Linked DNA regions of Homo sapiens: region 1 is linked to region 2. Evidence: fine-mapped expression QTL. A gene starts in region 2. The other region holds a variant in brackets. All regions are shown on one strand. Distances are between the middles of the regions. Region 1 overlaps LINC02535 (long intergenic non-protein coding RNA 2535). Region 2 holds the start of NT5E (5'-nucleotidase ecto).

Region 1 (5,382 bases), 58 kb before region 2:
TTCTGCCTGATTTGCTCTTCCAATGCATTCTTCAAGTCTTAGTCCAGTGCTTCCTCTCTGAAACCACACCCTAACCCAGCCTGCTGGTTGGTCATCTATTTTCCAGGCTCTTCGTAACCCTGGGCATATCTCCATATACACCCATCACACCTGCTATTACTATTGGTTGATGTGTCCATCTCTCCCAGGACTTTGAGCCCCTGCGACTAAGAATAGATATAGCTTTGTATTTATCTCTATAACTCTAGATAAATTCTCCATAAATGTTTGATAAATGATTTAAGAAATGACTGGAAGAAAAAGTAAATGAATAACAAGCCAAAGAGCAGTAGACAGCTTATGCTAACACTTTGAAGCTTACAGTGCAAACTGAACTCTGCCTCTCCTCTCAATGACTGAATCCATTCCACTTTGTTTCTGCCTCCCTCACTTTCTTATTCTAACAGATCTGAAGCAAATTTTAAAATCTATAATTAACTTTTTTTATATTACCCTCAAGGGATCATAGATCAATGACTTTCTAGAAAAAGAAAGATCCCCATTCTTACCTTTGCATAATCTCTTTTTAAAAAAAAACAAGAGATTACATTTCATGTTCAAATGCCTAAATTATCTCTTCTTAGGACACACAGCAATATTATCTCCCATTTTGACAATTGCCATTGGGTTTACTTCAATTGAAATGAAACATACTTTCATTGTAATTCTGCAAGCACACTGATGAAGTTGTTTACAATCAAGTATTAAAACTTATCTAGGGGCAGTTATGCTTAGCTAAACCTTTGGAATGTGCTAAGTCATGGTTAAGTTGTGCTAAGGGAAAGAATGCTGGGGAACTTATGCCAGTCTCTCAAGATGGCAGCCACAAAGCAGGCATTAGAGCCATAGAACTGAGGTAACTGACCCCGAGTTCAGTTATCACTAGTAAATCAGTCATAACAGTCAAAACAACCAAAAAATATGATAAATTTCCATGGAGCAAAGGGGAACAACAATCCCACTACAAATTTCCAACAATCAGATTTTCTTTCAAATAATAATATGGTAGCATGAAGAGCTAATGCTTTTGACAATCTAACAAAGAAAGTCCCTGAACTCCTTGGGAGAGACCTTATTGCACTCTTCTTTATGTCATCATCATCAAACATGACAGCTGCACTCATACAACATTCAATGCCTGATAAATATTTGTATTTCAGATAGGAGCATGTGTGTCAGAAATTATTTGGAACCTAAGTCCAATAGACACAGCTAATTAAATTATAAATGTGGAGCAAAGTGTGTTGGATGCTTTAAGAGCTTATATATACATGCAGAAATGAAAAGCAATGAAGAAGACAGAAAACCACATGGAACCAAATAAAAGGAAACAGTAAAGTTTCAAAGTGGTGCTTACTAGGTGTAATCTTTCTGAGGTTCCTCTGAGCAACTACCATTGTTTCATTCAATTTGATCTTCCCTAGTATGGTAATAAATAATGCCAGGAGTTCCTTATAAGGGTCGTTCTCAAACCTCACTAATTATCTCAATTATCTAAGGTTTTATATTTTGAGTCATGGTCTTACTCTGTTGCCCAGGTTGGAGTATAGTGGTGTGATCATAGCTCACTGCAGCCTCCAACCCCTGGGATCAAGTGACCCTCCCATCTCAGTCTCCCAAATCACTGGGACTATTGGTGTGAACTACCATACCCAGGTCTTAAAATATTTTTTAAACGTAAAGATTTCCAGCCCCATTTCAGACCCACTAAATGAGAGTCTACTAAGGAGGGGCCAGGAATCTGTATTTTTAAATATCTCCAGGTAATTCTAGTGATCAGCCACTTAGCAAATACCAGTGATTTTTAAAAAGAAAAAAAAAATTGTAAGATATACTGATAGGGGCTGAATTGTGTTGCCCTAAAATTCATATGTTGAAATTCTAACCTCCAATACCGCAGAATGTGACTGTGTTTGGAGACAGGGTTCTAAAGAGCTAATTAAGTTAAAATGAGTCGATTAAAGTGGGCCCTAATCCAATATGACTGGTGACCTTATAAAAAGAGAAAATTAGGACACAGAGCGATACAGTGGGAAGGTTGTATGAAAACAGGGAGAAGGTGGCCATCTGCAAGCCAAGAAGAAAAGCCTCAGAGGAAACCAACCCTGCTGGACTCTTGATAATGGGCTTCCAACCTCCAGAACTCAGAAAG[T/C]AAAATTCTGTTGTTTAAGCCATTCAGTCTGCAGTACTTTGTTATGGCAGTCCTGGCAGACTAATACATGTACCTCCATGGTTAATGATATGGTTTTGTTCTGTGTCCCTACCCAAATCTCACCATGAATTGTAATCCCCATAATCCCCACATGTCAATGGCGGGACCACGTGGAGGTGATTGGATCATAGGGGAGGTTTCCCCCATGCTGTTCTCCTGATAGTGAGTGAATTATCATGAGATCTGATGGTTTTATAAGCATCTGGCATTTTCCCTGCTTGCACTCACTCCATCCTGATGCCCTGTGAAGAAGGTGCCTGTTTCTCCTTTGCCTTCCGCCATGATCGTAAGTTTCCTGGGGCCTATCCAGCAATGCAGAACTGTGAGTCAATCAAACCTCTTTCCTTTACAGATTACCCAGTCTATGGTATTTCTTCATAGCAATGTGAGAATAGACTAATACAGTTAACTGGCACATCTGAAAAGCAAGAAAACATTGTGAAGGATGACCTGTGTGATAAAGAGACATTATCTTATATCCCAAAGGGAAAATAGTCCCTATTAAAATGGTTGATTAATTGTTACATTTTACTTCTAACTTCAATGGGGAGAGAAGTTGCTGAAGGAGAAGGGAAAGAGAGAAAAGAGTCTGAAAGTGAAAGGGAGTAACAAGTTGCTGGTAAAATGAGAGAAAGGAGCAACATTCAGGAAAATGAAAACCATATCCCTTAAGGAATGTACTATAATACAACGACATTCTGAGGAATCAGCATCCCCAGGAAAAACAATGAAAAGTAATGCCCAGGAGCACCTTTAGAAGTCATGGGGAATTTTATCTGAGTCTTTCCTTGCCAGAGGGAAAAGTTTTCTTTCTTTCACTTATTTCATCAACAACCATTTATAGGCTGCCTCCTACATCTTAGACACTAGGCTACAGCCTGGCTGTGCAAAGATGATCAACACAGGAGCTGTGCTATCTAAGAATGTCAGTCTAGAAAAAGCAGTTCTCTTTAAAAGCCTCCCTAAAGGTCCAATCCCAAGACACACTTAAACCTCCTTTAGAGATCTTAGGTTCTTCAATTCTTTATCTCTTTGTACAGCCCCCAGGTTCCCAGGCAGGAAATCCACAGCCAATTCCTGTTCCTAAGCACCCAGGAGGCAGGTGTGTTTCCAATTACTATGCTCTCTTCGGGCTATAATTAGGAAAAGTACCTCTCTGACATTTTGACTCTAGCACAGGGCCAGGCACATAGTAAGTACTCAATAAATATTTTTGGAATTAATTAATGCCTTAATCAAATCTATCAATCCTAGAAGCCCTCCTGGTGAGTCTGGTACCTTCCCCTCCCCTGCTCCCTAGACCTCTCCCAGAAGCAGCTTTGCCTTTTTGGAATCTCCCAGAAGAAGCTTCCTAAGGTAGTGTTGAGGAAATATAATTAAAAGCAAAACCCCCTCCCAGCCCAGAAAACCTCTCCACAAACATAATCAAGAAAGAAAACAATTTTACTATTGAATAAACATTAAACCAGAACGTAACGCGTATCACGAACAATTCACTGGAGAGATTGCAATGGTGAAAAGAAATCTTTCATAGAGCAAAGTGGATATAATCCATTACACTCATGTTTTCAAGAAAAAATCCCTAAGTTTATTGTATCATTATAACTAGAGGTAGGGGTTTGCCATTTCAAGTCGGGGAGAGTTGAAATTAGGCCCATTTTCTCCCAGGAAACTGAGAGATGAGGCCTTATCTTTTTTGACGATTACATTTCGAGAAGATGAGGAACATGAAGAAGCGTGTCAACCAATGTTGCCACAAGTCCATGAGGAAATATTCTTGAGTTGTGTCAACCAAAGAATTATGAGGTTTCCACATTTGGACAGGAGAACTTTATTTCTTATAAAAGGTTGCAGCCTCCAGGGTAACAATCCACAGCCTGGGAAGCATAACCTCCAGTAGAAGCAGAGAGGAAATGGTGACACAGGAATTTAGGCCAAATGGGTTGGCTAAGCATACATATTCATCAGATTACAGGAGGAGCAATAAATATTCATGAAAGAGGGCATGCATGTATGCATGCATAGTAAACTAACATGCATGTCACATACATCCGAGGTTCACTTTTTGGTGGATACTTAACATTTAAATGCATTAAAATTAGGCTATACACATTATAAGGTGAAATGGAGGACACAGAGGCATCCAGTACATAGACTCCACAAACTGGCCAAAACCAGTTCATGGTTAGTGGTCTCTTATCAGGAAAACATGCTGGTTGATTGTTGGGTCAAAACTGCAAAAATGGAGGGGAGTCCACTGAGTCTTTTGAAATGGCTGGTTTCTGTTAAATCCTTAGGAAAGAAGGTTTAATGGCAGGTACTGAGGGAGAAAGTATAATGAAGCATATCCAACCTCCCCCATAATGGGCCAAAACTCAGTTTTTAAGGCTTCTCTGGGGTCTCCTTGGCTAAGAGGGGGTGGATTCAGTCAGTTGGAGGGTTTAGGATTTTATTTGTATTTCTCAGGTGTAAAACTCACAAGATGTTTATTTAGCACTTGACCTTAATAGTGGCAAGGCAGTCCAGTCCTCCTGGAACACCATACTCATCAGCATCTCTTTGAGACTGGCCTACCCTCTGAACAGGAATGCACAGAAGCTGCCCGCTGGGACTGCAGGTGCTCTGTTAGCCAGGTCTCCTGGCCATGGCACTGTGCTTTAAGGCCAATTCTTGGGACAGAAAGGTGAAACTTCTTTCTGTAAACCCATTTGGTAAACCCTTTGACCTTGAACATTAAGCATCAAAACACTCAAAGCACAGACTTTGAAATTACACAGACCTCTGCTAAATTCCAGACTACTTCATCTGTGTTGTCTGATCTTGAGCTAATTGGTTGGTTAATTTTTCCAAGACTCAATGTCCTTGTCTATAATAGGGAGATAATATCTTCCACAGAGAGCACAGCTGAAGAGTTGTTAAGTGCTCTTATTACTACAATTGAAGCAAGAAAGTAAAGAAGTTTGGTGCATACACTCTGAACCCAAATGCCTGGCTTTCATCCCAGATCCACTTTTGGCAAAATCACTTTTCCTGTTCCTTAGCTTCCTCTAAGTAAAGTTGTTTAGAAGAATTGCTAGCCCACATAAGAATTTAATAAGTGTTGGCTATTATTTTATTTTTTTCACCTTCAT
Region 2 (5,382 bases):
GAAATTTAGAAAAGAGAAAAACTCACTGCTGTGTGAAGAAGTCAAAGGAACTTCATGTTGACTTGAACAAGAAATTAAAGGAACCCCGGGCCTTGGCCTAAGGACAGACTGGAAATGGTGGTTTGGAGAGAAGAAATGAGGACAAAGGGAATGTGTGAGGAACAGTGGAAGGTAAAGTTGGCTGGATAAAATGAGACTTCAAAATGCCAGTTTGCGAAGCTTGAACTTGGTGCAATAAACAATCAAAGGCCATTTTAGATGTATATGAAAACAAATGGCATGGAAATGATATTGAAGCAGAAATCTGGTAGCATCCCCAGAACAGGAATTTCAGAAACTATTGCAGTGGCTTAGGTTTAAAAGACAAGAAACAACAAATGATCAGTTCCCCAGTGATCAGTGATAGGTCATGTTGATACCGTGTACCCACAGATACCAGGCAATGAGAAAGGCACATAATCTCTGTAGCATTCTTCCTAAACATCCACAGCTTCAGTCCAATCATGAGAAAACATCAGACAAACCCAAACTGAGGGATAGTATACAGAAACCAGTACTGTTCAAAAGTGTCAAGGTTTTTGAAGACAACTGACTGAGAAACTGTCACAGATTAGAGGAGGCTAAGAACACAGGAAAACTAACTGCAATATGGTATCCTGAATTGGGTCCTGGAATAGAAAACGGACATTAGTGGAACAGTTGGTGAAATTAAAATAAAATCAGTAACACAGTTAATAGTTTCGTATCACTGTTAAGTTTTTAGTTTCATTGGTTATATAAGCTGTTAACATAAGGCAATATGGGTGATGGGTATGTGGGAACTCCCTTTATTACCTTTGCAACTTTTCTGTAAGTCTAAAATCATTCTTTTTTTAAGTTAAAACAGCAAAACTACCAGTTCTTTTACCTGCTTCTAGCAGGTGCTCAAAGAGGGACAGAGCAAAACCTTGCAAAGCATGACATTAGAGGGTGTCCCAGAAGCAAGGGTCTTCTGTAGCCCCAGGCACTGCTGCTCCCAAACTGCATGGCCTTTCTTGGCAAATGATTTACAATCTCCGAACCTCAGGTCAATGTCTTAAAAACGGGCACAGAATGTCTTTTCAACAAATGGTACTAAGAAAACTGGATATCCACATGAAAAAGAGTAAATGTGGACTCATACCACATATGAAAATTAACTCAAAATGGATTAAAGGTCTAAGAGTTTAAATTATAAAACTCTTAGGAGAAAACATAGAGGAAAATCTTCCTAACATTGTATTTGGCTATGACTTCACTGCGACACCGAAAGCACACGCGACAAAATAAAAATAAAATAAAATAAAATAAGACCAGAAAAGCAAAGAAGGGCAGCATCCCTTCCCGTCCTGATAGCTGCCGGATTTTACCCCAATCGTGTTTCTGCTTCCAGGAGCTGTCCGCGCGTCGCCTCTGTTTTATCACTAAGGTTTTAATTGTGAATAAACAAGGAACTGGATTCGAATGATTTCTTAGTTTCTGAGATTTTTTTGTCTAAGCATCGTAGACTTCGTGCGTTCTCAACCCAACAGGAAGCGTCACATCTCAGTGAGCTTCGGCTCTCACAGCCCGAAACTGCAAGGAGCTCCTCTGCCCGGCCTCTCTTTACTCCTCCTCTCTGCCCCTCAGCTCGCTCATCTTTCTTCCCGCCCCCTCTCTTTTCCTTCTTTGGTTCTTTGAAGTGATGAGCTAGCGCAACCACAAACCATACATTCCTTTTGTAGAAAAACCCGTGCCTCGAATGAGGCGAGACTCAGAGAGGACCCAGGCGCGGGGCGGACCCCTCCAATTCCTTCCTCGCGCCCCCGAAAGAGCGGCGCACCAGCAGCCGAACTGCCGGCGCCCAGGCTCCCTGGTCCGGCCGGGATGCGGCCGGTACCCGCTCCCCGCCGGGAACAACCTCTCCACTCTTCCTGCAGGGAGCTGGTGCCAGCCGACAGCCGCGCCAGGGCCGCTCCGGGTACCAGGGTCGGATCGGGTGACGTCGCGAACTTGCGCCTGGCCGCCAAGCCGGCCTCCAGGCTGAAGAAGGACCCGCCCCGGCCTTGACCCGGGCCCCGCCCCTCCAGCCGGGGCACCGAGCCCCGGCCCTAGCTGCTCGCCCCTACTCGCCGGCACTCGCCCGGCTCGCCCGCTTTCGCACCCAGTTCACGCGCCACAGCTATGTGTCCCCGAGCCGCGCGGGCGCCCGCGACGCTACTCCTCGCCCTGGGCGCGGTGCTGTGGCCTGCGGCTGGCGCCTGGGAGCTTACGATTTTGCACACCAACGACGTGCACAGCCGGCTGGAGCAGACCAGCGAGGACTCCAGCAAGTGCGTCAACGCCAGCCGCTGCATGGGTGGCGTGGCTCGGCTCTTCACCAAGGTTCAGCAGATCCGCCGCGCCGAACCCAACGTGCTGCTGCTGGACGCCGGCGACCAGTACCAGGGCACTATCTGGTTCACCGTGTACAAGGGCGCCGAGGTGGCGCACTTCATGAACGCCCTGCGCTACGATGCCATGGTAAGACCCGAGCCCGCGCCCGGGATAGTAGTCCCGGACTGAGAGAGGAGCCGGGCTGGAAAAGCAGCGGATGGCAGAGTGTGGCAAGCCTAGGTCCAGGGCGCGGAGAGATGTGGGGATAAAGTGAGACTCCGGCCAGTGTGCCAGCTGGATGCATAGAAGTCCCTTGGACGATTCGTCTTAAACGGACGTTATTGCGCCCCCACTATGAGATGGGAGTATTTAGAGGAGCAGGACCCAGTCCTGCCTGCGAGGGGCTTAAGGTGGGGTGCGTAGAAGCACTGACAGTTATCCAGAGCTAGGGACTGAATCGGATCCCTCACGCAGCTCTCATTTACTGCTAGATCTTTCAAAGAATGCTTTATCTCAATCTAGATCTTTCGAAAAATGCTTTATCTCAATCTTATTGAAAGGGAAACCGCGTCGAAGAAGCTGAATAAATTAACAGGCACCATCCCCGCAAAAAGGGAGACGTGATAAGAATGGACACCAGATCTCTTTGACCCCGGAGCTTGAGAGTAATTAAGCTCACAGCTTTGGGGTAGATTCTCTGTTCAATTACCTTCTATGTGACCTTGAGCAAGTTATTTACTCTTTCTTGCCTCAGTTCTATCCTGTATAAAAATAAGGATTATAATTGTACATAGTGCACATAGTGTGGTCTCTATATTATTACCAGACACATAGTGTGGTGTCTATATATGTTGTTATTACCAGACACTATAATATAGGGTTAAGAAAAGGAAAGAAAGAAAGAAAGAGAAAGAAAGAAAGAAACTTCAGAGAGAGCCAAAATGTGGAAAGACTTGGGTTTCAAAGGATTTCAATAAAGTAGGTTTGGCGGCAGAGATTTAGGAAGAGTCCAACTTAAGAGATAATGGGCTCTTAAAACATGTGCAAAAGTTTAGTTCAAAGTCCCAAATGTTAGGTTAAAGGTAATGCCTTTTCTATTGCACTAAATTCTAGAAAGGGAGCAGAGGTGGTTGCACAGTAATAAATAAGTACAACCAAGATGTATATATGGTGGTTAAAAAAAAAATAAAACCACCACCCAAATTTAACCCTGTGTAAAAGCCTTGAGTAAAGGGATTCAGCAAGACTGTGGAGAAACTTGGGAGAAGAAAAAAGAGCTTTGGAAGAGGAAGAACTGAGAAATCTCCAGAGAAACGTCCAGAGAAATCTGTGAAGTCCACAAGTGTGGAAGGGAAAGGGAAGTGTGATTAGGCTGGGATACAGAAGGCTAACAGTACACTTTATATGAGAAGAGCTTAGAGGTCAGGAGAGCACAATGCTGAGGGGTTTGTTTGGTTTTATTTTCCCCTCTGGAAACTTGGAGAAAGGAGGACAGGAAAAGATGATAAGAGGGCACCATTGTTTGGTTTTAAAGGTCCCTCCCCAACCCCCCACAACAAGAAAGCTCATTTTAATGAGATGAGAGAAGGGGAGAAAGCTCCCTCCGTTCTGATGCTTTTGAGCTTATCAGGGACACCCTGCAGCAGAAATTCCAGCTGATCCTTCAGCCTTCAGAGTTGATGAGGTGGGGCTCACACACATCTGGATTTGAAGAAGAATCGTGGGTTTCAAGAACTCTGTGGTCTCTTAAGCATTGGTATTCCACAGCTACACTTCCCTGATACTTTGCACTCAGTAATGACAAAATAAATATTTGTAGAATTGAGTTGTTGCTACCCTGTGTCTCCACTTCCTCCCAGAAGGGTAGAATAAACTTACATGTGTTTGTTTTATTTTGCATATAAACCACGACTTTGTAAACTTTACTTTTTGTGACACTCTTTTCTCCACAATTGTGTGAACCCTTTTTAGTGGAAAAATAAGAATGAAGAATTCCTAGTTTTCCCTAATAATATTTCCCTCTTGTAAGTCTAGTTGAGCTCCTGGTGTTAATCATGGTATCAAATGTTTATGACAGGACATCTAGGTGAGGCCTGAGTAAACTGCTGTAAGTTACAGCCTATCTCTTCTGTGTTTGTTCAGAATCCTTTTTGTTGGATGAAATTACTTTCTTTCAAATTTTGCTCAAGAAAATTGAATTGGGTTCTGAGGAAAAATAGGCTACTTACGTAATGTTGGCAGGGGGTAAAGATTGGGAGCGGATCACATGGCAAGGTTAGATGGCTGTGTCCTCAGGACTTACTCTGTGCAGTTTGGGGGTGTGTCAAACATGATTTGACGTGCATAAAATCCCAGTTCTGTAGTGCTAAAGCATGTGCTAAAGCTCTGCTGTACTCCAGTATTGCACAGATGTTTCACTGTCAATTGTTTATATTATACTAACCCTCAGAGAATTTATTGCTGTTGTGGTATAAACGTTCCTCCACTGTAACCACTCACCGCATATTGATTCCTAGGACACTGGGGATTCAAATCAGGGTGGAAAACAGTTGTGGAGGGGCATCTCCAGTTTCCTGGAGACTGGACCTAGTTCAAAGGAGCCACATAAAAGGACTGAAGCATATGGAGGACAAAGAGGAATTTCCTAGAATCCAGCTAAAACACAGGAGTCCCCTCGAGCAGGAACTTCCAAGGAGGTGTACACTTTCTAGACCTACTGGAGTAATCCTGATTGCTGTAGAGGACCCAGGGCAATCCTGGAGACCCCCTGGAACCACTACTAGGCAGAAAACTGGGAAGAGGATGGCAAAACTCTCCAGTTAGTGTAGCTGTCTCAGTGGAAGGACTGTTGTCCCCTGAGGCACGAGGAAGACAGCATGGAAGCACTGACAGTATGCGCTTGGCCTGGTTACTTTCTCTGAGCTTCATGTTCCTTAGCTGTAAAACAGGAGTGATAACCCCCATCTTGCAGAGGTTTTGTGAGGAATACATGAGATAATCCCTGCTGGT

What was found. PIP is the estimated chance that this variant, and not a neighbour inherited with it, causes the effect. A credible set is the group of variants that fine-mapping cannot tell apart.
Region 1: its variant is the best candidate, but not a certain one, in a credible set for the expression of NT5E in whole blood (TOPMed, PIP 0.55).

Annotation. Positions count from the first base shown.
Region 1 is chr6:85,390,183-85,395,564 of GRCh38, forward strand. All of the region lies in intron 3 of LINC02535 (long intergenic non-protein coding RNA 2535), which reads right to left. Among named protein-coding and RNA genes, the nearest start is that of LINC02535, 12 kb to the right of the region's middle. The variant T/C (reference allele first, on the strand shown) is at 2,192.
Region 2 is chr6:85,447,959-85,453,340 of GRCh38, forward strand. NT5E (5'-nucleotidase ecto) reads left to right here and starts at 2,125. Exons shown (of 9, transcript NM_002526.4): 1 at 2,125-2,520. The coding sequence starts at 2,182. RefSeq lists a silencer at 1,918-2,187.